Regions from separate parts of the Homo sapiens genome. Here all the other regions are linked to region 1. Evidence: fine-mapped expression QTL. A gene starts in region 1. Each other region holds a variant in brackets. All regions are shown on one strand. Distances are between the middles of the regions.

Region 1 (5,102 bases):
TCTCCACCCTTTCCTTTCTCTCCTCTCTCCTCCTCCTCTTCTATTCAAAATAAAAATCATGCTGATCTGTCTTTATGGCAACTTTGTCCTGGAGCATTTCAGTAGCATCCAACAAAAACATGTGGCAGACTACATTGAACAGAGGAACCTCATCTCTTTCAGGGACCCCCATTTCCCCCACCTTTGTAAGGGACATTAAGGACATGGGAGCAGGAGGGGGGCTGCCCAAGGAGCACAGGTTACCAGCTAAGAGAAAGATGAAAACTTCTACCAACCACAATGAGGCCACGGCACAATCTATGATTTGCTCCTTTGCACTCACTTGGGGTGATGGGAGGAGGGAGGGAACTGGAGAGAAAGATGAGGCAATAGTCCCTCCAATGTCCCTTCAATGTTAGCCCCGCACATGACAAAGATGACAGTCCTCACAGATGCCAGCAGCCGTCGACTTCCCAAGGCACAGACACACAGACTCAACATACAGGGACCCTGAGGCCAGACAACTGGGACCCAGGGCAGATTTCCACCAATAATTGTGAAATGACCAGAAGAATGTGGCCTAGAGACCACAGACCCAGGGGATGAGGGTGGGGGCCAGGGCTCGTTGACTGCTGAGAAATTTAACACTTCTGCCTGGACTGCTGAAGTCTTTAAGGCCCCATCCCCCACCGCCCGCCCTGTGCCTCCCAGTTTACTTGTGCCCAGAGAGAGGATACCCCAAGACCCCCATCCTGCCTTCACCAGACAGGGATTCGACCAGATCCAGGAAACAAAGGTGCAACTTTTACAAAAAGGGTGCATGCATTTTGGGGTTTGGGTTTCTGCAACTCCAAAAACCGTCAAAAAGTTAATTCCCCAACCCACTCTCTCTGCACCAATTCGCAGTTGTAGTTTCTTACATCTTTTTCTGGGGGTAAATTTCTTACTCATCCATTTGCCCTGGCAGCCTTCCCGAGAAAAATCACATCCTGACTCCTAGCCTTTCCAGCCCACGGCGCAGTTATAACTGTGAACCTTTCGCCTCACTCTTGGTCCCGCTCCCCCGTCTGGCTAGTGTAGGGCGGGCTCCTCGGGGCGGGACCCCGCGTAAGTTGGGTGTCTGTGGTCCCTGCGTCCTGGATGTCGGCGCGGTTGCCTCGCAGGAGCCAGAACGCGCTTCCTGCTGGCGAGGGCCGGGGCAGTGCGCCCCCTGGCGGGAGCCCAGTCACCTCACTCCAGCAGGACCCGGAGCCGGCGCGATCCCACCCGAGCCGAGCACCGTCCCAACTGGCTCCCACTGCCCCCTAAATCTGGACGTGCCCGAGCCTCCCACCCACCCAGCACTCCATGGAGTCTCCACTTCCCCAAACCGCACACACCTAAGGAATAAGGGGGGTCCTGGAGGAACGAGTGGCGCCTCCGCCCCGCCCCGCCCCGCTGCCAGGGACCCCAAAGGCAGCCCGCCCTCCATGCAGCTGCCGGGCCCCACAGCCCTCCCGGCCCCGATCGCCGCTCCCAGTCCCTGGTCCCTCACTGTCTTACCGGGTGGCGTGGCGAGCAGCCCCTTTCCGGGCGCAGCCCTGGCCGAAACCCCGAACCTTGTAACCACACCTGCCACCCCGCGCCGTTCTCCAGAAGCCCCCACTCCTCCACCCGGAGCACTGGGAGCCCACCGGCTCTGCACCTGTCCTGGGCGCAGCCCCCGGCCCTCAGCGGACTCCGGGCAGGCACGGGGTGGAGACCGTCCCCGGCCCCCCAGCCCCCGCGTGCTAGTTTGAGTGGAACTTGGTTGCCGGGCTTCCGTCCTGGGATCCCTACTCCACCCCAATTCCCCGCCGCGTCCAGCAGCACCCCCGGGGCGGCGCGCGGGGGGGTCCCCAGGTCCCCGGGGGCGCGGCGGCGGCGTGCGGAGGGCACGGAGGTGCGGAGCCCCATACCTTCCAGCGGCGGCTGCCGGACCCCGCGCCAAATCCCGCCGGCGGCCGGGGGGAAACTTTCCTGGTCGGAGGGGCGCGCTCGCAACTTGCCCGGCGCCGGCTGCCTTCCCGGCGGTGGCGGCGCGTCCGGGGACCCGCAGCGCGAGGCGGCGGCGCTCGCTCGGGGCTCGGGGCCGGGACCGGGGCCGGGGCCGGGGCCGGGGCCGGGGCCGGGGCTGGGGCCGGGGCCGGGGCTGGGGCTCGGGCGGCCTCGCGCGGCTCCGCGGTGGATCGCTCGGCGCTACGTCCGCCCCGCAGCCTGGAGCCCCGCGACGCCGGCGGCAGCTGCACGCCCGCCAGCCCGCCGGCCCCACCTCCGCCGCCGTCCGTCCCTCCCCTCCCCCGCCCTCCCTCCCCCTCCCCAAACCTCCGCCCCTCCCGGCTCCAGACGCCGTTGCTGCCGAGAAGCGCGTCTCCTCTGCGGGCTGCCCCTCGCCTCCCGCCAGCCTCCGCCTCCTCCTCCAACCCCGCGTCCAGGCCTTGTCTGGGGGTCCCTGGGCCCACCCTCTGCCCATCTCCCCTTCCTCCGCCTCCGACCACCTCCCGCTCTGCTCGCGGGCCCTCTCTGCGTCTGAATTCGGAAGATCGTTGCGGGAGTGGGGAGAGGGGCATGCTGGACCCGAAGTGTTTATTCCAGGGGAACTTTCAGCTGACCCCGGGGCCCAAACGCAGGGGTTGGGGTGAGATCCTCGGTCCTGATCGGGCTCCTGGGCTTCCCGCTGCCGGGGGAAGTACCTGTTGAAAGCCTGGGGAACTCACCCTCCTCTGACTTGCAGATAAGAAAGGGGACTTCCTGCATGGAGGGGCCTGACCCCAGGTCAGATGCAAATGACTTGATTGCAAGGGGCCAGATCTGTGTCTCCGGCCTCAGGGCTGAGGTTCTTGCGGGGCTGGGGAGCTTATCTTTTCTTCTCTGTACTGCTGCCACAGCAGCACTGGCTCCCAACCCCTGACATGACTTGCCTGAGACTTTTAACCTCTGAGCCTCCTCTAAACAACTACCCGACCCTGCCCCAGACAAAACGGACAAGCAAGCAGATCAAAACTGACAGCCCAAGTGAAAGTACTGATGACAGGGGCTCGGGTCGCCCACTCCTCTTCCCTTGGCAACTCTGTTTTGAGTCCCAGCTTGAAGCTTCCACACCCCATCCCCGTGGGCCCTAGGCATTCAAGCACACATCAGCTCTGCAGGAGGCCCCTTGGCCAGCTGATTCTCACTAAGGGGTGACTGATAGGAAGGAGTTGACCCTACTCCTGTCTTGTATATGGATGTTGGTAGTCAGGCCACTGGGCAGAGTTTGGGGGGAGGGGGATCTTCTTGTTTTGTTTTTGTTTTGTTTTTGAGACAAGGTCTCGCTCTGCTGACCAGGCTGGACAAGCCTGGTCAACAAGCACAGCTCACTGTAGCCCGACCTCCTGCACGGCTTACTGTAGGCTCGACCTCCTGGGCTCAAGCAATCCAATCCTTCCAACTCAGCCCCCTCGAGTAGCTGGGACCAGAGGCATGTGCCATCATGCCTGGCTAATGTTTTCTGTTGTTTTTGGTGTGTGTGTGTGTGTGTGTGTGTGTGTGTGTGTGTGTGTGCGTGTGTGTTTTGTAGAGCTGGACTCTTACCATGTTGCCCAGGCTGGTCTCCAATTCCTGGCCTCAAGTGATCCTCCCACCTCAGTCTCCCAAAGTGCTGAGATGACAGACGTAGCCACTGCACCCAGCCACCAGCCAGAGTTTTGAGAGGCAGGAAGTGGCTGCCTTTCCTTGCCCACATTCCAGGAAATGGATTCGTCCCTGTAAGGGGATGTCCCTGTAAGGACTTCAGGGATGTCTGGTCCTTTAAAGAACTTCACCGCGTCACCGGGACTCTTAGAGTAGGCACGTGGCTGGAAGAAAAATCCCTGGATCCGCGGTTTCAAAGGGACCCAGAGTGAGCAAAGCTTCACCCAAGGGGAGGAAGTCCCTAATGGTGGAATTTCTATAAGAGGAGGACAAGGAGAAGGGCTCCACATTCACCCTTCAGCTGCCAAAACAGAATGGAGGGTGGAGGCTGAACACCCCACAGGCCCTGCACTTGTGGAATGCTGCTGGGAGAGGCCCCGTGTGAGCCTCCTTGGACACCAGGCGCCACATACATTTAAAGAGGAAAAACGGGAAGCCCACAGCAAGGGTGCTGGAGCTGGGGAAGTGGAGACCAGAGACAGGCAGAGAGAGGGATAGAGTCTCTAAGGGTCTGGGGCTTGGCAGAACGGGGCAGGCGCAGGGGAAGAGAGTGCAGACCCGCTGCACAACTTAGACAACCAGCTCGGTCCCTGACTCCAGTTCCAAGTCAGTTTCCTGGACCTCAGCCTCTCTCCAGCCTCCATGGAGGACCTGGCCCTATCTGTGCATTAGCTAAGGACATCTGCTGAATAGGCTTCTCTAAATCAACTCTTATTTTTTCATTCTTTTTTAATTTACTTAAGTGAGCTTGTTTTTAAAAAGATATGTTAAATTATTACCATAAATGGAAAGCCAGCATCACATTACTATAAATAGAAGGTAACCATCAAAATAAATACAATGAAAATAAGTGTTATTAAATTCTAACAATGTATCTTTAACCACAATAATAATAATACAGTCTAACAAGATACTGCTGCCTGAGGAGGTGTTGAAGCTGAGGTCCCACTTTCTCTTTGAAAGGAAGGTTACCAAAGGCTAGAAAGGTGTTAAAGACACATTAGCAACAAACTCTTCATCAAGAGCATTGATGAAAAGAGAATTGGGAAGGGACCCCCTCCACTCCCACTCCTCACCAGGTCAATTAGGGTATTGGAGGCCCTTGGATTACCTCCAATGACCTTAATTTCCTTGAACATCTCGAATGTCCTCTCAATTGGGAAACATAATTCTATGTATTGGTGCAAAAGTAATTGTGGGCTGGGTGCAGTGGCTCACACCTGTAATCCCAACACTTTGGGAGGCCTAGGTGGGTGGATCACGAGGTCAGGAGATTGAAACCCTCCTGGCCAACATGGTGAAACCCCGTCTCTACTAAAAATACAAAAATTAGCTGGGCATGGCAGCACGTGCCTGTAATCCTAGCTATTCGGGAGGCTGAGGCAGGAGAATTGCTTGAACCCGAGAGGCAGAGGTTGCAGTGAGCCGACATT
Region 2 (5,102 bases), 31 kb before region 1:
CACCCCTCCCCTCACTTGGCAAACTCCTAATCATCCTTCAAAACCTTCTTTCAGTTAACTCCTTTGTGAAACCTTCCCACTCTCTCAACAGGCATAAGTCATTGTTCTCCGGGCTCACATCACAAATTGTGTGTATAGGTAATAGTATATTTTTTGCTCATGTGATTTTTCCCACCTACCAGACTATGAGTTCCTCAAAGATATGGGTGGTATCTTACTCCCTCTGAGTCTCAGTTCCTGACTCTGCAAATAATAGCTGGATGGATAGACAGTTGCTAGGAGAAATGGATGGATGGGTAGTGAATGGATTTATAAAAGAACTTGAATGGTAGAAAGAAGGAACTAGGCTATAATTGGTTGAGGGATGGGAAAATGACTGGGTGGATGGAGAGATGGATGAACACAGGGATGAATAGAAGGACAGAGGGAAGACAAGTGGATCTATAAAACAATGAGTTAAATGAATGTGGGAAGGCAGAACTAGGTTAATGGTGAGAAAGAGAGAGAGAATGAATGACCCTCAACTACTTGTATAATTTTCTCTAGACCCTGAGAAACTGAGACTCTTAGGACTCTGAAGAGCCTAGCTTTAGTCTTCCAGAGTCAGTAGGTCTGAGGAGAGACCACGTCGTCAAACACCATCACCCCCTAGCTCACCCCACTGTACCACTTGTTGTATCCATAGATCTACAGGTAAGGCCTTCGGGAAGGAATGGTCAGAGCTGCCTCTTGTCTTGGCCTTTGCTGACCCAGGTGCTGAAGAATTAAACAGTGCCACAAGGAGACCAAAGCTTTCCTGTGTCTAAGCCAAGCTCCAGTATGCAGGGCAGTTGCTTTGCCAACTGTGTTCAATAAGCCAGCTTGTGAACAGGCATGGGATAGGCAAACTGCCTGATTTACAGCAGAAGGACAGCTGCTGATGGAAGCCCTGCAAAGATGCCATTTTGGGGGAACTATAAAATCGGTAAAGGGTCAGGATAACTGAACAGCATAGCACTGTTTGGATGGTTCCTGTGAATGGGCTTTGCACAGGGACTAATTCCCCAGTATAGCCTGCTGCCTATCTTCAACAGGGGTAGGAAACACGGTAGGAGATGAGGAGCCCCCAGCATGAAATCAATGTAAAGCACTGTGGTTAAGAAGCCAGGCTTTTGTGCCCCCGCAAACCTGAGTTTAAATCTCAGTTCTGCCTCTTGCTACCAATGTGACATCAGGAAAATTCTCTATCCCAGCAAACCTCAGGATATCCACCTGCAAAGTGTGGACAACCATAGTCCCACCTCACAGGCTTGAACTAGGGATTGGATGAGCTAATAGACTGCAAATGATTCCCACAGTACCCAGCCTATCATAAACACTCGATACACAGAAGCAGCAGGAATTTTGTAAAATATAATCTGCCGCTACTTTCTGTAAAAAGGGCACTGAGCTAAGCATTACTCTTATACCAAAACCAGACAAAGACACTTACAAGAAAAGAAAACTACAGACCAATATCCCTTATGAGCACTAATGCAAAAATCCCCAACAAAATATTAGCAACCCGAATTTGGCAGCATATTAAAAGGATTATACACCATGACCAAGTGGGACTTATTTCTGGAATGCAAGGATGGTTAAGCATACAAAAATCAAGGTAATACTCCACATCAACAGAATGAAGAGGAAAATACCCCCACACAATTATATCAAATGGTGCATAAAGCATTTGACAAATTCAACACCCTTTTATAATGAAAACATTCAACTAAAAATATAAGAAAACTATCTCAAAACAGTAAAAGTCATATATGAAAAACCCATAGCAAACAGCAGACATCATATTCAATGGTGAAAGACTGAAAGCTTTTCTTCTAAGATCAAGAACAAGACAAGGATGCCCATATTTGCCACTTCTATTCAACACAGTATTAGAAGTTCTAGCCAGAGCAATTTGACATTGGATTTTGTAATGATTTCTTGGATATGACACTAAAAGCCCAGACAACAAAAGGAAAAATAGACAAACCAGACTTCATGAAAAAAATTTAAATTTGTGCATCAAAAGACAATACAAACAGAGCAAAAATGCAACCCATGGAATGGGAGAACATATTTGCAAATCATATATCTCACAAAGAATTAATATCCAGAAAATATAGAAAACTCAAACTCAGCAACAACAAAAAAACCCAATTAAAAAATGGGCAGAAAAGATTAAAAGACATTTCTCCAAAGATGATATACAAATGGTCAATAAATATATGAAAATATGCTCAACATCACTAAACATTAGGAAATGCAAATCAAAACCTGCAATGAGGCCAGGCACAGTGGCTCACACTGCCTGTAATCCTAGCACTTTGGGAGGAAGAGATGGGCAGATCTCTTGAGCCCAAGAGTCCAAGACCCACCTGGGCAACATAGCAAAACTCTGTCTCTACAAAAAATACAAAAAGTCAGCTGGGCATGGTGGCACATGCCTGTAGTCTCAGTTCCTTGGGTGGCTGAGGCAAGATGATCACTTAAGTATGAGAGAAAGAGGCTGCAGTGAGCCAAGATCACACCACTGCACTCCAACCTGGGCAACAGAATGAGACCCTGTCTCAAATAAATAAATAAATAAATAAATAATCATTTCTCAGCTTTCTGGCTAAGATCAAGTGTAAACAAATAAATAAAACTGCAGTGAGATACAACTTCACACCCACTGGCATGGCTACTATAAAAAAAAATAAAAAATAAAAAATAACAAGTGTTGGCTAGGATGTGAAGGAACTTGAAC[C/G]CTGTTCCCACTGTTGGTGGGAATGTAAAATGGTACAACCACTGTAGAAAACGGTATGACAGTTCCTCAAAAAATTAAAAATAGAATTACCATGTGATCCAGCAATTCCACTTCTAGGTATATACCCAAAAGAAAAAGCATTTGACAAATTCAACATCCTTTTATAATAAAAACATTCAACTAAAAATACAAGAAAATTATCTCAAAACTGTAAAAGTCATATATGAAAAACCCACAGCAAACAGCAAACATCGTAGTCAATGGTGAAAGACCAAAAGCTTTTCTTCTAAGATCAGGAACAAGACAGTAGGAAAAGAAAGTAGGGTCTCAAAGAGATATTTGTACACTCATATTCAGAGTAGGATTATTCACAACAGCTAAAACATGCAAATAACTCAAGTGTCCATCAACAGATGAATGGATAAGCAAAATGTGGTCTATCTACACAATGGAGTATTAGTGAACCTTAAAAAAGAAGGAAATTCTGACACGCTGCAACATAGATGAACCTTGAAAATGCTATGCTAAATTTTAGAAAGCCAGTCACAAAAGACAAATACTGCATGATTCCACTTACATGAAACATGTAGAATAGTTAAAATCACAGAGACCAGAAATAGAATGGAGGTTACCAGGGGCTGGGAGGAGAGGAAAATGGGAAGAATTATTGCTTAATGGATATAGATTTTCCATTTTACAAAATAAAAAGAGTTATGGAGATGGATGGCATGGACGGTTGCACAACATTATGAATGTATTTAAAATAACTGAACTGTGTACTTAAAAATGGCCGAGATGGTAAATTTTATGTTGTATTTTATGACAACTAAAAAAAAATGGGGAAAAAAAGGGAGTAGCTATGATTCATGATTCCAAGTTATTCTCCTGGGAACCCTTCCCTCCCTCCCTCCCTCCCTCCTTTTTGTTCTCACAAAGAACAGATGGGGGCTACACCCCTCCACACACACACAACACACTTAATTCACAACAATTGGACTTCACAATAATTTATATATTAACTTTCCAGATAACATTGAAGACCACTGGTTTAGAGTCTCCTGTTGTCCTAGAATCCCAAGTCAGTCGGATTTCAGAGGAGGAAGAGAGCCAGGAAGACTTCCTGGAAGAGGCAGCAAGGAACAAAGGAAGAGAGAGAGTTGACCAACCCAGTGATAAGCCTTTCCCTGGTTAGCTTCTGTTGGCAAACTCTCTCTCCATCTCCCTCTTCCCTCCTCCATCTCTCTCTCCATCTCTCTTTCCCTCTCTCTCCATTTCTCTCTCTGTCTCCCCTTCTCCCCACCCTGGCTCTGTACTCCCAACCCTAGTCACCCTACATCTCTTCCTGGCTCCTAGGAGAAATAGCCACCCTTCTGAGTCCCGAGGCCATAAGAATTTGGCCTTATGCCCCAAGAAGGAGCAGCGTCCTCAGGGAGACCCTGGATGCCAGCTCAGCCTCAGACCTCGTCTCCCAAGCCGATGCCAGGCCACAGGATCCAGGCTGGGCCACTGCCAGCCTGATGCATTGCTTGTTGACAGATAAAAGCTCTGCAATTTATGGCTCCAAAGCAAAGCCAGGGCTTTGTTTTGCTTTGTTTTAAATTAGCTACATAGGGGGTTGGTGTGGGGGCAGGGGAGAGGGAGGAGAGCCAAGGCATGCTCAGGATGTCTTGGGGCTGCGTCCCCAGCTCAGCAAACCCCAGGGCAGCCCTTAATGAAGCCACCTGAGCGCTGAGAACCTTGCAGTGTCTGCCGGGCTCTCCACCTGCACTTGTCTGGCTGGGGGAGGGAAGCGCTTCCCACCTGCTCGTCCTGTCACTGGGCCCAGCACCCTTTGTTCCCAGAATGAGTCCCAATCAGCCTGGTTAATTGTGCCTCAGGGTCTCAGTGGGGCTGAAGTGAAACCATGACATCCTCAGAAAGATGGGGATCTATTCCTGCTCAGAAAGAGGAGGCTGTTCCTTACTGTACTTGACACAGTGCAGCAGGCTCTGGGCACTGCCAGCAAGGGGCCCCAAGGGTCTACCCAGAAGCATGGGCCTTCCGATCTGAGCCCATTAGCTCTTGGTGGGATGAGGAGGGTGGAAGGGCCAGGGAGGGAGGGAATGTCCCAATCCCCATAAATGATTGCCTGAGACTGTTTATTCTCAATGCAACTGCTGTTAAGAATCATTTCCCCTCACGCCTCCCATCTGGTCTGGGGCTTTTCTGCAGACAGCACATGCCAGCCAGGGTCTCTGTGTGCCCTCCTGTGTAGGACCTGCCATAGACAGACACAGCCGCACTGGTCAACTGAGTAGGAAAGAGCATGTGTAGCCTGTGGCAGCCCAAAACCTCTTGC
Region 3 (5,102 bases), 140 kb before region 1:
AAGAGGAATTTGCTTTTTAATTTAAATCCTTCCAGATCATTTGAATTTTTAAGAAGCCTATATTGCTTGTGTAATAATAACTTTTCAAAGTAACTTTTTTGTCTTACAAATGCAAAGTAGTCTGGAAAAACCCGTGTGGGAGCAAGAAGATGCAACAAATAGCTTAAGGGTGTTCATTAAATACACCATCATCATCCTTTCTTGAGCATTTACCACGTGCCCAGAGCTCTGCAACTGTTTTAACACTCATTATTTAATTTAAAGCTCATCGCAGCCCTATGATGCCATTAGTGCTACCATTTTCTAGATGAGAGTTGAGAATTTGAGAGAGACTCAATAACACGCCCAAGGTCACCCAGCCTCAGAGCTGGCGTTTGCAAGCTCTGTCCTTAAATCAGGGTACACACCAGGCTGCCTCCCTGAAATCAAACTGAGAAACTTAATCAGCTCAAAAGCCATTTGTTTTGAGTCCATTCCACTACTTGAAAATTCCTTATATTCCACGGGAGCCAAAATCAAATTGTCACAGAAAAACAAGCCAAGAGATTGGTATGTCCAACCACCCCGGCTGAGGCTGGGACAACACCGATTCCAGTAAATCCACTGTGATCCTTCCACCCATCCATCCATTCACCAACCTCTGGCTGATGCCCCACATGGCAGGCTCTGCTGGCTGCCAGAGACCAGAGAGGGTGAGATACCCACAAGGAGACCGCCAGGCAAACACAGGGGCAGACTGGACCCCCAGCACCTTCCATGTACAGGCTTGGCGTCCTCCAGAAATAATCAAAACCCTTTGCAGTTCAGGATCCAAAGAAGCATCAAAGGGGGGTGAAAAATGAAACAGGACCTTGCCATTGGCACCCAGGGCAAGCCCATCTTCCCCGTGAAACACTTAGTTTTCCTGATGCTGAACTGGGACTTGGCAATCCACCCCATAAGGTCCATGTGCAACACTGGACCAGTCCATTTTAGTGGATGCTCTGGCATTTCACCCAGGCCTTAGGCCCAAGATGGCAAGGGAGGGTTGAACAAAGCTTCGGGTGCCATGGGAAGCTGGGGTGGGATTTTCCCCAAGGCCTCAGCCTGAAGACCTGAGCTGCCGAGAGCAGGGACCCTGAGCATCCTATCCAATAGGACCCCACGTGCCTCTCAGAGGCCCAGGCACACAGTAAGTGCTCAATGAAGTGTTGGTGAATGAATGAATAAATGTGATTCTGGGTAAGGCAGCCCCAACCCCAACACTTTTCGGAGATGGGAGGGGTGTGACACCCCACCCCATCACCAAGTTTTTTTTTTTTTTTTTTTTGAGACGGAGTCTCACTCAGTCACCCAGGCTGGAGTGCAGTGGTGCGGTCTTGGCTCACTGCAACCTCTGCCTTCCAGGTTCAAGCAATTCTCCCACCTCAGCCTCCCAAGTAGCTGGGACTACAGGCGAATGCCACCACACCCGGCTAATTTTTGTATTTTTAGTAGAGACGGGGTTTCACTATGTTGGCCAGGCTGCTCTCGAACTCCTGACCTTGAGATCCGCCCGCCTCAGCCTCCCAAAATGCTGGGATTATAGGCATGAACCACCGTGCCCGGTCCCCATCACCAAGTTTTTTGGGACATGGACCAACAGGCACCTATACACTGAAGACTCCCACAGAGTTATATTAATATGATTGAAATATAAATAATAACAACACCAAATAGCATCAGTACTACACTGAATGCTGATCCCTGGCAGGTGCTCTGTTAAGCACTTTCTGTCATTCAAGTATTTCCTTCCATCTTCACACAGTCTTACGAGAAGTGACTATTACTATCTCTAACTTACTTATAAGAATACTGAGGCTGTACTGCTAGCAGAGCTCAGATCCGAACCCAGGTCTGACATGGAATACAATGTTTCAAGCGGAAGGAGCTTGACAAACTATAGGCCAGGAGGCTAAGGACATCAGTAGTGCAGCAGGGACCCAAGTCTCCCAACTTCCAGCCCAGGGTATGCCACTAGGGCAGCTGCTTGCAATGCTCTAAGTGAAAATGAGCCCTAAGCTCTGTAAAGTATCTCAGGAATGAGAGGATTAAGAACTCTTGGTCTTTGTGCAGCACCATCTCTTTGAAAGGGCCCTCCAAAACTCCCCTTCCCAGGGAAGAAGAGGACAAAAGGAAAAGGGAGGCGCTACTAAACTCCGTACCCAAGCTGTAGTTGAAAGCAGCCTTGAAGACAAGATGGCCCCAGGCCCAGCACGGCCAAGCCTGGAGGCCTGCGGGAAAGAAGGCTAACCGAGTTCATCTGGCTTCCTGCCTGGCACAGTCTTTCAAGCCTCAGGGTCCCACTGCCAGGCCTTTGCTCTCACTGTGTCTTCCTCCCGAATGTCCTTTCTAACGTCCGAAACTGGCCTATATCTAGGCACAGCTCACAGGCCTTGCATCCCCTGATTTTACACCACCACTGTGCAGCAGTAACATCTCCTTCTGGCCTCTGAACCCCCAAGCCTTCCTTTATATTTCAGCTCTGGACCCTCCCATTCTTTACCTTGGATGTCTTGACTTTGATCGTCTCCCTTAAAAATCTGGCCTCTGAGGTGCCTGTTGAGTGCATCTGAATGAATGACGAATGCCTGGGAAGTGGAGCTTGTATGATTCGTTTTATTAACAGGTGCACACTCCAGGAGCAGGTCTGCATACAGATCTCTCTAACAGCTGCCCTTCCTCCTCCCCAGGGCCATGACAAGTGGCACCTTACACCCTAAGTCCTAAAGGCTGAGAACCAAGTCATTCTGCTATTTCTGCTGCATCAGGCACAGGTGGGGGCTT[T/C]ACAAAATGCTGTGGAAAGTAACTGACCGACATATCTACCAAGCCAGCCCAGTTATGGTTTAGCACTGTCTGAGACATCAGGCGAGGGGTTGGGGGCAAGACACCCAGAGGAGGGTCCTGCCCTCAGGAGATCTCCCAGAGGAGAGGTCAGGGAACCCTGAGGACAGGGACCTTTGGGCTTTGCTCACCCTCAATCCCCAGCATTTAAACAGCTCCTGGCACATGATAGGCACTCAACAGCCATTGGCTGAATAAATGAATTAACACTCATTGACCCAGAGGTGCTGAGCTCACCATATAAGGCAGGGTGGTGCTGAGCGCTGAGCTGGCTGCATGGTGAGTCAGAGCTTTGGAGCCCACAGGCGAGACACAGAGCGAGAGAGACTGGGGGAGGGCCAGGAGGTTTGTGGTTGACCAAAACCAAGCAAGGGGCAGCTGCCTGGGAGGCAGCATCACAAGCTGTGGTTTTCGGTATTTTTTCTGCAGAGGAATATTTGCTCAAATGAAATCACACATCGCACCCTAAATGTAGGACAGAGCTGCCGCGGCGGAGGGCAGCAGGGCTGCCAGGCTGGCCTGGCCACGTGTACCCTCGTGCCCCCAGAGACGGAGCTTCCACTCAACCAGTGCCCGTCCCCCTCTGCTCCCCTGTCCCTCTAAGGGGCTTCAGATAAGCAAGGCTGCGGTTGGTCTTCTGGGAAGGGGCCCATTTAGCGCAAAAAACCCTAAAGAGGCTCAAGAAACTCCCCTCAGCCATGAAGGAGTGGAGGTGGGGGGAAAAAGGAACAGGCCTTCCCGGCGAGTGGAGGTCTACTCAAGGCAGCCAGGCGCTGGGGTGGCTGAAATAGTGGGGCGGCCATCAGAGAGTGCAGGGACTCTTTATGAGAAAGACCTTCTGGAACAATCTTTTTGGAACGTGAAGTACCACTCTCAGATCCATCAGAGGCATGGGGGCTGTGTGTGTGTGTGTGTGTGTGTGTGTGTGTGTGTGTGTGTGAAATTTGGGCTTTCAGATACTAGATTCACTAAAAATGAGGCACTTAGAGAGAGGCCAACCCTGGTACCATAAATCACAGGAAGAATCCCAACTGGGACACATGCGACCACCTGGGTGCTTCATCGCCCCCGACTCCCAACATGACACCAGTAGGGAGAATCTGCTGCTTTGTCTGCCCAGCATTCCTTTCTCCTTTTTCTAAAAATAATGCTTGGATTTTCCCTTGCAAGTCCATCCCCTCTCATGCATTCAGGCTGACTTCCCCAACCCACGACACCTACCGACCTCACCACACCACCCCCAACCACCGACCCCCCGCCCAGCACCGACCGCCCCCACCCCAGCACCGACCAGTCCCCACAGCCCCGACCACCTCCCTCAGCACCACCCGCACCCCACCAACCCCCGCACCGACTGCCCCCCGACCAACTGACCCAGTCTGGCCAATCAGCATATCTTATCCTCCAGGTTTCAGTGATTGGGCAGAGGTGTCATGTGACCCAAGACCATCCAATAAGCCTTGACTTTGGGATTTTTGTTGGACCGCCTGGGAAAAAGAAGCTCTCCTTCCATTGGATTTGAAATGAGCAAGGCGTCAGTCTGGATCTGCAGGTGCCTGCCCTGCGGCCACATGGAGAGTGGCTACCGAGGACTGAAGCTCACAAGGAGGGAGGCAGAGGACACGGATGTGGTGAGATACGGTCCTAACAGCATCATTTGAGCCCTGGATTCAGCCCTGCCTGCCTTGAAACCAATAAATAGGCCCCAAATATATTATTTGGAATATATATATTTGGAATATATATTATTAGAAACCAATATATTAGAAACCAATTTTAAAAAGCTAATAAATGGCCTGTCTTGCTTAATCCAGTTTGAGTGTTGGCTCCCAAATGATGCAGCATCTGACCTCAGTTCAGCCTTTGCCCTCTCACCACCCACTGCAGCCAACCTTTACTTCTGACCCACCACTGGTTCTTGCTTACCTGGGCAACAGTTCCACCCTTCCCCAGTTGAGCTTGAGGGGCATGGGCCAGCAACCTGGTGGGCTAGCCTGCACCTCAGCCTTCTCAGCTGTCTGGCCCCTCCGAGGGTTATCTTCTTGGCTAATCTAGTGAGACCCCAGCAACCTTGGCTCAGATCCACTCACACTATCTGCACCCCTTACTATCCTGCCCACGGACCTTTGGTGTGATGGGAGAGACAGACACTGATGCATGAAAGAGAATGACAGGTGCCCTGCTGATGGTTACCCTTAGCAACAACAACAGCAACAACAAAAGTAGCAGAAATCCCCTTG
Region 4 (5,102 bases), 29 kb after region 1:
GAGGTGACAGCTACTGTAGACAGGGAGGTCAGGCAGGCTCTCTCAAGAGGGGACATTTAGCAGGAGCCCCAGCCATACTTAAAGCCGAGGGTGACTGTTCCGGGCAGACGAAGTAGCAGTGGAGATGCAGTGTTGGGGAAAGAGTTCAGATTCAAAATGTCTTCACCCAGATCCCAGGTCTGCTTGAATTTGTTTCTCCTCCAGCCGTTACCTGTTTTCCAAGGTCATTCGAGGCTCCTCCTCACCCTGGACCCACAGCCTGTTTGTTGTGAGGCTGCTAATTCTGCCTCTGAAAGGGCTCTGCTGTCTTGCTCCCACCCACATCCCTGGCCTGGATTGTGGAGACGCACGCTCACTGGAGGCACACCCTTGCCTCACCCTCCCAGTTCACTCTCCTCCCTGCTCCCAGGGATTGTTCTAAAACCAACACCTTCATGGAGCTACTCCGCTCAAAAACCTCCCATGGCTCCCCATTGCCTACCCAGCCCAACCACACTGCTTGACCGTGCCTCTCTGGTTTCACAATCACAGCACAGCCTGCTTGTCCAGACCTATGTCCCCACCACCACCCCCTGCCTCTCACAGACCCTGAACCTTTCATGCTGCCTTGTCCTCCATGCCTTTGCTCATGCAGTTCCCCCGCCTGGAATGCCATTCCCTCGCTCCTCCACCATCTCTACCCCAGGCTTAGCTGTGGTGCTCTTGCTCTCTGCTCACTCCTCTGCTGCATATCCCAGCATGCCATATGTTCCTCTGTCTGAATCTGCGCCATGCTGTATAGACAGGGGGGTCTATGCATTGGCAACCCCCAGCTGGGATGCCTTTCTCATATTTGGGTCCCCAGTGCCACTGCAGGCCCAATGGACACGCGGGAAGGAAGTATAGCAGACTGCGTGGACTTAAGACAACTTCCGGTGAGGGTCCTGGCTCAGCCATTTCACCTCATCTGTAAAAAGGGGATAATGTTAGTACCTCTTATATCAGATTGTTGAGATGATTAAACGACACATTCAGTTGAGTGGCACTGCCCCCAGGGATGATTTGGAAATGAATGGGGGGCATTTTCGATTGTCACAAAGATAAGGTCAGGTGGGGAGTACCACTAAACTGAGCAGGTGGTGGGTCTGGGAAGGCAGGTGATTAGTTAAGAGGGAGATGGTCTTTGGGAGGCCGAGGTGGGTGGATCACCTGAGGTCAGGAGTTTGAGACCAGCCTGGCCAACATGGTGAAACCCCCGTCTCTACGAAAAACACAAAAATTAGCCTGGCATGTTGGCACGCACCTGTAGTCCCAGCTACTCAGGAGGCAGAGAATCGCTTGAACCCAGGAGGCAGATCATCGCTTGAACCCAGGAGGCGGAGGTTGCAGTGAGCTGAGATCGCACCACTGCACTCCAGTCTGGGTGAGTGAGACTGTCTCAAAAAAAAAAAAAAAAGTGGGATCATGCAGCCCAGTGAGGAACTGTCCCCACAAGCCACGTGACTTTCACACGCCCTGCTGGACATTCATGTAGGGAAGAAAATATGTTTATCATTATGTGAGTCTAGACTTTAGCTCTGCTTTACATGTAAATATAAAGCATTTTTCCACACTTTGAATATATACTGAATTTTCAAGGATGCAACTAAAGACAAAAACAAGAGAAGAGAACTCTATATTTAGTTTTATTCAGAACATGCCAAGAACTGCTCACAATTTTGGAAACGTGCATCTGACAGTGACATGATTAGAACGTTGGCTTCTCGGCTCAGTGCCCCACGTTCCTGTACATCTGTAGCTGTCCCCTTGATGGTGGTCCTGCGCAGGCTGCAAGCCCCTGACTGCTTCCTATGTCTTCCAGAGCAGCTGGGCCTGAGTGCTTACTTGTTCAAGTACAGTTTTTATTTTACGGGACATTCTTTATATTTCCTATTTATGTTACAGATAGGACATTGTATATGGTTATTTTTAAAAATCGTGCCTGTAGGTAGGTTACAACATCCATGGGGTTTATTTCAGAATATTAATGGGAATGTTATGCACCATCCACATAGAAAGAAGGTGTCAGGCATGTGAGGATCTGGAAGCAGGGTTGCAGAGTATTTATGAAGTGGTGAGAATTTAGACACTATTGCTAGGGACTTAACACACATTTGATGGGTGAGTGAATGAATGGATACAGGTTGGTGAAAGAAGCTCTCTAATGCCCCTTTTATTACCACTCACAGGTGAGCTAATGCTTGGGACTGCCTGGAACTATCTGCTCCCGGTTCTAGGACCTTCTATGAAGCGAGCTAAGCACAAGCCTTTCTTGGCTCCAGCAGCCAGTTGGCTTCTTGCTGGGTTGGGAAGCTGCTCAGGGCAACTTCATCCCTGCTTTGGAGGCCCACCTGGATATGAAGGCCCAGCCAGGATTAGATCCAGGCGGCTCTGGGATTTTTGCAACA[T/C]TCGATAATAGGAGTGGAATTCCCGCCCAGGCCTGGTCAGGAGTGAGAGGAAGGGACAGTGTGATTCTAGGTGTCATATTCCTGCCTGCTGGGAATCAAAATCATCACATTTGCTTCAAGTTTATTTCATTTACATATTTTCTCGTTATAAGTAATACATGCTTGCTGCCCAAAGAACTCTAATTGGAGTAGGCGTGTGGACTTCTCTGTTCCATCTCCTGTTTCTTACTAACATAGAGAGCAAGTGCTTTCTTTGAACTGTTACTGATTTATAAATGACTTACCGTCATTTATTTGTTTTCAATTTGTTAAAAACTTTTCTCATGGAACGAACCTATGCATATGGTTAAAAAATAATAAAAAGTAAGTTTCTCTGTTCTCCTAAACACTCCAAGTTTGTTTTTCATTGTTATTTATTTAAAAAAAATTTTTAAGTGACAGGGTCTTGCCATGTTGTCCAGGCTGGACTTGAATTCCTGGGCTCAAGCAGTCCTCCTCCCACCTCAGCCTCCCAGGTAGCTGGGACCTCAGGCACGCATCACTGTGCCCAGCTTGTGTGTTTTTTTTTTTTTTTTTCACACTAAATCATAGAAAATACATTTCTGGCTGAGCTTGGTGGCTCACGCCTGTAGTCCCAGCATTTTGGGAGGCCGAGGCAGGAGGATTGCCTGAGCCCAGGAGTTTGAAACCTGCCTGGGCAACATCAAAAGACCTTGTCTCTAAAAAAAAAAAATACAAAAATTAGCCAGGCATGGTAGCACTCGCCTGTAGTCCCAGCTACTCGAGAGGCTGAGATGAGAGTATTGCTTGAGCCCAGGAGGTTGAGGCTGCAGTGAGCTATGATCATGCTACTACACTCCAACCTGGGTGACAGAGAGGGACCTTGTCTCAAAATCAATCAATCAATTAATTTAAAAAATACATTTCTGTTTCTTCATTTATCCACTCTAGGCACTGTCTACTAGTGACTCTCCATAAAAGGTGAGGAAATTAACAATCAGTCCCGAATGTTTGTTGACTATGTGATTTTATTTCATATTGGGAAGATTAACAACATTTACATTCTATTTTATTTCTATAACTATGATTGGTTGTCCAAAGTGACAGCTAATAACCAGCATTTTTGGTAACAGTGAATACTTACAAAGTCCTTAGCCATATCCTGGTGTTGTTCAGAGCACTTCACTCAGAGGCTAACTTGTTTAATCTTCACAACAACTCCAGGAGACAGCAACTGTTATTAACCCCATTATGTAGATGAGGAAACTGAGACATGGAAAAGTTAAGGAATTTGCTCAAGAAAGCTCAGCTTATACATGGCAGAGTGGGGACTGGAACCTCGGCCGGTCCCAGGGTCTGCGTTCTTAATCACCACATTGTACTACCTCTCTGGGACTATTTCAATATTACATTTTTCTGAAGCATGGCCGCACCCCTTAGATGACTTGAGCCTCTCTTCTTCCCGTGTTGCAGGTGGAGAAACATGGGGCTAAATGATGATCTTGAAAAGGGCCCTCACTCGTGAGCCTTCGCCATGTGCCAGTCACTATGCTGAGCACCTTGCAGGTGAGAACGTGATTAACCTCACGGTAAGCTCCCACGTGGGGCCCATTGCCATCCTCTTTTGCGGACGAGGTCACCGAGGGACACAGACTTTAAGTAATCAGAAGGGGAGAAGCCGGGTCTCACACCTGGGTTCATCTGGCTTCATGGAGCAGGCCCTGAATTAGGAGTCAGGCTATGAGCCATCACTCACTGTAGGCCCTGGGACAGGGAATCTAACCTGTCTGGGCTCTGGGTTCCCCAACGTAAGGGTTAAGCCAGTCCCACAGGGCCACCTGGCTCTAGGACTCTACGGCTCTGCTTGACCCCGCTTTGCTGGGTAAACACATGCCAGTCTCTCACTAGCCAGCCTTGGAAGCTTCAGCTCTGAGAGGGGGATAATAATGACCCTCCACATAAAACCATGGGAAGACTAAATGAGATGACCTGGGTCATGCCCTGAGGACATGATAATAATGAGGAGGAGGAGCAGGAGGAGTCAAACAGCAGGACCCTGTCCACCCCAGCCTGCTGCCCTGCCCTCTACGAGTCCCCCAGAGACAGCCTCCTTTCCCCACTCCTTCAGCTGAGGTGGGGCTGGAGATTCCAGCCTGTGGCTCCAGACCGTGGGAGGAAGTGAGAATGTCCTTTCTCATCAACTCTTGTTCTTCCAGGAGCTTCAGGTCCAGGCCTTGGGGGTCAGCAGGGCAAGCCTGAGCCCTGTGGTGCTGTGGGAAGACTTGGTTCAAGTGACACTGAGCCTGGGACAAAGTGCGGTTGATGGCTCTTGTTTTCCCTGGCCCTTCAGATTGCCTTTGGGAAACCACCCAACCCTCACTCCCCTCCACCCACGTGCATTGCATGGGGCTAATTCTACCCCAGGCCCTGACTCCAAGTATGATCACCTGATCCAGACCTGGCCAATCAGCCTGTTCTGTCCCCCAGGCCACAGTGATTTGTTTAGGGATGATCATGTGACCTACAGAAAGCTTCAGGATAGTGGCTTCCTTGGGTAGGGGAGGCTGATGGTCAGACAGGGAAGAAGCCCACAGACAGATGCAAGTGCTGGTTAATGTTCTGATTCTTGTGTTGGATGACCAGGTCTTGGGTGTTTATTTATATAAATAAACAGAG
Region 5 (5,102 bases), 52 kb after region 1:
GTCCAGGTAAAAAATCTCAAGTCACGTGAGTGGGGGAAATCAGGCTGGCTGCAGGCTTCTCTCTAGGAACATGCCAGAGTCTGTGGGGCAGAGTCTACAAGCTCCCAGAGGATAGAAAGTATGACCCGAGAAATTTATACCCAGACAATTTCCTTCAAATTGAAAGGCCATAGACAGACATTCTCAAGAGTTCTAGAATTTAGGGAATGAGTGCCTCTTAGTCCTTCTTGAAACAAAAAATTAGGCAATGAAATGTAGCCAACAAAGGGATTTATTAAAATAAATAGCTCAGAATGGAGAAGCCAGGGTAAACATATTGGTGACAAGCTCTGAATCAATTTAAATATAGAAATAAAAATCTTTGTGAATTTGGAGTATAGTACACAGTGCAAAGGTTATATAAACATCAACAATAAAACTAATATCATTAAGTGACTAACAATAATTGGGAGATCTAGGAGAGAAGCAGAGAGAAACTGTGAATCTGCTAATTTCCTCATTTTTCACAGCAAGAGTCAACCAGTAAGGGATAAAGTTGGAAAAATGCCATTTAAAAAAATAACATAATTGGCTGGGCATGGTGGCTCATGCCTGTAATCCCAGCACTTTGGGAGGCCAAGGTGGGCGGATCATCTGAGGTCAGGAGTTCGAGGCCAGACTGGCAACATGGTGAAACCCTGTCTCTACTAAAAACACAAAATAATTAGCCAGGTGTGGTGGCAAGCACCTGTAGTCCCAGCTACTCGGAAGGCTGAGGCAGGAGAATCTGTTGGACCTGGGAGGTGGAGGTTGCAGAGCCAAGATCTGCCACTGCACTCCAGCCTGGGCAACAGAGCAAGACTAGACTCTGTCTCAAAAAATAAAATAAAATAAAATAAAATAAAATAAAATAAAATAAAATAAAAATAAATAAATAACATAATATAATCTCATAATTAATATTTTACAGAATTATGTTTCTTAACTTTAAAAAGCCTTGTAAAAACTCATATCACTTGAGGTAAAAAAGTATTTATCTAAAATTAAGCAGTTCTTTGATTTTAATTTACTAATTTATTTTTTAAGCCTTTTATTTTAAAATTTTATTTTATTTTTAATTTTTATTTAATTTAATTAATTAATTTATTTATTTATTTTTGAGACTGGGTCTTGCTCTGTCACTTGAGTACCTTCCGGGCTCAAGTCATACTCCCATCTCAGCATCCCAAGTAGCTGGGACTACAGGCATGCACCTACCATGACTGGCTAATTTGCTAATTTGTTCATTGTTTTGTACACATAGGGGTCTTATTATGTTGCCCAGGCTGATCTCGAACTCCTGGCCTCAAGCAGTCCTCCCCGCTCAGTTTCCCAAAGTGCTAGGATTGAGCCATCGTGCCTGGCCCTATTTTTAAATTTTTTTTGAGGCAAGGTCTCACTCTGTCATCCAGGCTGGAGAGGTTCAATCACAGTTCACTGCAGCCTCAACCTCCCAGGCTCAAGCCATCCTCCCATCTCAGCCACCCAAGTAGCTGGGACTACAGGCATGCATCACCAGGCCAGGCTAATTTTCATATTTCTTGTAGAGATGGGGTTTTGCCATGTTGCCCAGGCTGGTCTTGAACTCCTGGCCTTAAGCAATCTACCTGCCTCACCCTCCCAAATTCCTGGAATTATAGGCATGAGGCACTGCACCCAGCTGAAATAATTTTAAATATACAGAAAATTTGCAAAATGCTCCCCATATGCCCTTCACTCAGCTTCCCTAATGCTAACATCTTACCTGTTTGTCCAAATTAAGATATTAACATTGGTATAAGGCTATTAACTAAATTATAGACTTTATTTCGCCAGTTTTTCCACTCATCTCCTATTTCTACCCAAGGATTTCATCCTTTAGTAATCAGCGTCTCCTTGGTCTCCAATCTCTGACAGTTTTTCTGTCTTTCCTTGTCTTTCATGACCTCGACACTTCTGAAGAGTCCTGGCCAGATGTTTTGTAGAAGATCTCTCGATTTGCATTTGCATGATGTTTTCTCATGATTACATTGAGACAGATTTGGGGGAAGAGCACCACGAAGGTAAAAATGCCTATCACGTGGTATATAGTATGGACATGACTTATTACAGGTGATGTTAACCGCGATCACTTAGTTAAGGTGGCATCTACCAGGTTTGTCTGCTGTGAAGTCACTGCTTTTCTCCTTTCATACTCTAATTCTTAGAAATGCATGACTAATCCAGCCCTTACTCAAGAGGAGGGGAATTCATCTCCTCCTCCTTGAGGGAGGAGTATCAAATAATTTGTGGACATAGATTAAAATCACCACAGTAATTAGTAAGTATTTTAGAGAGGAACTTTGGGGACTTCATCAGTGGATCTTGCCTGCAGTCATTAGCACTTGTCTCCTAATGGTGATGCTCTATTGCCCCCATCCTTCTTATTTGGAATATTATTCACATGATTACATCCCACATTTATTATCTGGAATTCTCTATAAAGATTAGTCTCCCGTCTCCCCCATTTATTTATTTAGTCAATCATTTGTCTGTACCAGTATGACCTTGTGTATCTTTATTTTATTCTTTGCATTATAATCCAACAGTATCACGATCTATTTTGTTGTTCAAATTATTCTAGCCCTGGCCACTGGGAGCTTTTTTCAGGTTGGTTCCTCTGTCCTTTTTCCTTTCTATTACCTAATGGACTTGATATTTTAGAGCAGTTTTGGGTTTATAGAAAAATTGAGCAGCAAGTGCAGAGCGTTCCCATATATTCCCTCACACCCCCACTCACACACACACGCCTTCTCCTGTTATTAGTATCTTGCCTTACTGTGGTAC[A/C]TATGTGACAACTGATGAGCCAATATTGATATATTATTTTTCACTAAAGTCCATAGTTTACACGAGTAGTCACTCTTTGAATTGTGCATTCTGTGGGTTTTGACACATAGGTACTGACATGGGTCCACCATCATAGTATCATACACAATAGTTTCATTGCCCTAAAAATCCTGTGCTCCACCTAGACATCTTCCCTCTTTCTCCCTGAACCCCTGGCTACCACTGATCCTTTTACTGTGTTCATATGTATTAGTCCGTTCTCACATTGCTATAAAAAACTTCCTGAAACTGGGTAATTTGTAAAGGAAAGAGGTTCAATTGACTCACAGTTCAGCATGGCTGGGGAGGCCTCAGGAAACTTACAATAATGGAAGAAGGTGAAGGGGAAGCAAGGAACCTTCCTCACAAGGTGGCAGGAAGGAGAGTGAATGCAGGAGGAACTACCAAACACTTATAAAACCAACAGATTTCCTGAGAGCTCACTCACTATCACGAGAACGGCATGGGGAAACCGCCCCCATGATTCAATTATCTCCATCTGGTCTCTCCCTTGACACGTGGGGATAATGAGGATTAAAATTCAAGATGAGATTTTGGGTGGGGTCACAGGAAAACCGTGTCACCATTGTTCCAGAATGTCATATAGTTGGGATCATACAGAAGCCTTTTCATATTGGCTTTTCGGAGAGAGAGAGTCTCTCTCTCTGTCACCTAGGCTGCAGTGCAGTGGTGTGATCCTAGCTCACTGAAGCCTTGAACTCCTGGGCTCAAGCAATCCTCCCACCTCTGCCTCCCAGGTAGCTGGGACTACAAGCACATGCCACCATGCCTGGATAGTTTTTTTATTTGTGTAGAGATGGGGTCTCATTATGTTTCCCAGCCTGGTATGGAACTCCTGGCCTGAAGCAATGCCCCTGCTGGCCTTGGCCTCCCAAAGTGCTTGGATTACAGGTGTGAGCCACTGTGCCCACCCAAGAGATTTGCTTTATTTTGTTTAGAAAGGGGGGGGTCTCACCAGATTGGCTTCTTTCAGTTTACAATATGCATTTGAGGTTCCTCCATGTCTTTTTGCAGCTTTATAGCTCATTTCTTGTTATCTCTGAATAATATTCCATTGTTTAGATGTATCACAGTTTATCTGTTCACCTATTGAAGAACATCTTGGTTGCTTCCAAGTTTTGGCTATTATGAAAAAGCTGTGTAAATATACATGTGTGGGTTTTTGTGTGGCTCTAAGTTTTCAACTCATTTGAGTGAATACCAAAGAATACAATTTCCAGACTGTATAGTAAGAGTGTGTTTAGTTTTGTAAGAAACTTCCAAATTGCCTTCCAAAGTGGCTATGTCATTTTGCATTTCCACCAGGAATGAATGAGAGTTCCTGTTGCCACACATCCTCACAGCACTTGGCACTGTCGGTGTTTTAGATTTTTAGCTATTCTAATAGGTGTGTAGTGGTATCTTGTTGTATTTTGCAATTCCCTACTGATTTATGATGTTGAGCATATTGTGTCCTTTTGACATGCCTCCATCCTCTTTGTTTCTGTAAGCACTTTCTTTCTGGCATTACAAGATGCTCCAGGTTCATCTTACCTTTTCTATGTATATTAATTCATTATTGAATTGCTATAAAGAAATACCTGAGACTAGGTTAATTTACAAAGAAAATAGGTTTAATTGGCTCATGGTTCTGTAGGCTATACAGGAAGCATGGTGCTGGCATCTGCTCAGCTTCTGGGGAGGCCTCAGGGAGCTTTTACTCATGGTGGAACGCACAGGGAGAGCAGGCGTCTCACTTGGTTGAGTGAGGGCAAGGGAGAGTGGGGCAGGGGAGGTGACACACTTTACAACAATCAGATCCCACAGAACTAACTCACCATCACAAGGATAGCACCAAGCAAAGTGGCATCTGCCCCCATGATCCACACAGCTTCCACCAGGCTCCACCCCCAACATTGGGGATTAGAATTCAACATGAGATTTGGTAGGGATATATATTGAGACCATATTATTCCACCCCTGACACCTCAAAGCCCATGTCCTTCTCATATTGCAAAATACAATCATGGCTTCCCAACAGTCCCTCAAAGTTTTAACTCATTTCAGCATCAACTCAATCAGAAGTCCCAAGTCCAAAGTCCAAAGTTGTATCTGGAAATGAGTTCCTTTCACCTATGAGCCTATAAAATCAAAACAAGTTATTTACTTCAAAGATACAATGAGGGTACCAGCATTCGGTAAACATTCCTGTTCCAAAAGTTAGAAATTAGCCAAAAGAA

The links. PIP is the estimated chance that this variant, and not a neighbour inherited with it, causes the effect. A credible set is the group of variants that fine-mapping cannot tell apart.
Region 2: its variant is the best candidate, but not a certain one, in a credible set for the expression of TSPAN18 in whole blood (TOPMed, PIP 0.87).
Region 3: its variant is the best candidate, but not a certain one, in a credible set for the expression of TSPAN18 in aorta (GTEx, PIP 0.55).
Region 4: its variant is the best candidate, but not a certain one, in a credible set for the expression of TSPAN18 in lung (TOPMed, PIP 0.83).
Region 5: its variant is the best candidate, but not a certain one, in a credible set for the expression of TSPAN18 in whole blood (INTERVAL, PIP 0.64).

What each region holds. Positions count from the first base shown.
Region 1 is chr11:44,724,102-44,729,203 of GRCh38, reverse strand. It overlaps TSPAN18 (tetraspanin 18), which reads right to left and starts at 2,242. Exons shown (of 10, transcript NM_130783.5): 1 at 1,917-2,242. The region is part of intron 2 of TSPAN18-AS1 (TSPAN18 antisense RNA 1); the gene reads left to right. RefSeq lists enhancers at 1-237, 238-740, 2,456-2,625, 1,992-2,853, 2,854-3,714 and silencers at 1,110-1,279, 2,116-2,265.
Region 2 is chr11:44,754,887-44,759,988 of GRCh38, reverse strand. The region is part of intron 1 of TSPAN18 (tetraspanin 18); the gene reads right to left. Among named protein-coding and RNA genes, the nearest start is that of TSPAN18-AS1, 21 kb to the right of the region's middle. The variant C/G (reference allele first, on the strand shown) is at 2,765.
Region 3 is chr11:44,860,494-44,865,595 of GRCh38, reverse strand. All of the region lies in intron 3 of TSPAN18 (tetraspanin 18), which reads right to left. Among named protein-coding and RNA genes, the nearest start is that of TP53I11, 88 kb to the left of the region's middle. RefSeq lists enhancers at 2,693-2,742, 2,843-3,470, 3,471-4,098. The variant T/C (reference allele first, on the strand shown) is at 2,806.
Region 4 is chr11:44,695,111-44,700,212 of GRCh38, reverse strand. LINC02704 (long intergenic non-protein coding RNA 2704) reads left to right here. Exons shown (of 3, transcript XR_931234.3): 2 at 3,900-3,992. Among named protein-coding and RNA genes, the nearest start is that of LINC02704, 3.7 kb to the left of the region's middle. The variant T/C (reference allele first, on the strand shown) is at 2,427.
Region 5 is chr11:44,672,082-44,677,183 of GRCh38, reverse strand. No RefSeq gene overlaps it. Among named protein-coding and RNA genes, the nearest start is that of LINC02704, 27 kb to the left of the region's middle. RefSeq lists enhancers at 4,111-4,889, 4,890-5,102. The variant A/C (reference allele first, on the strand shown) is at 2,824.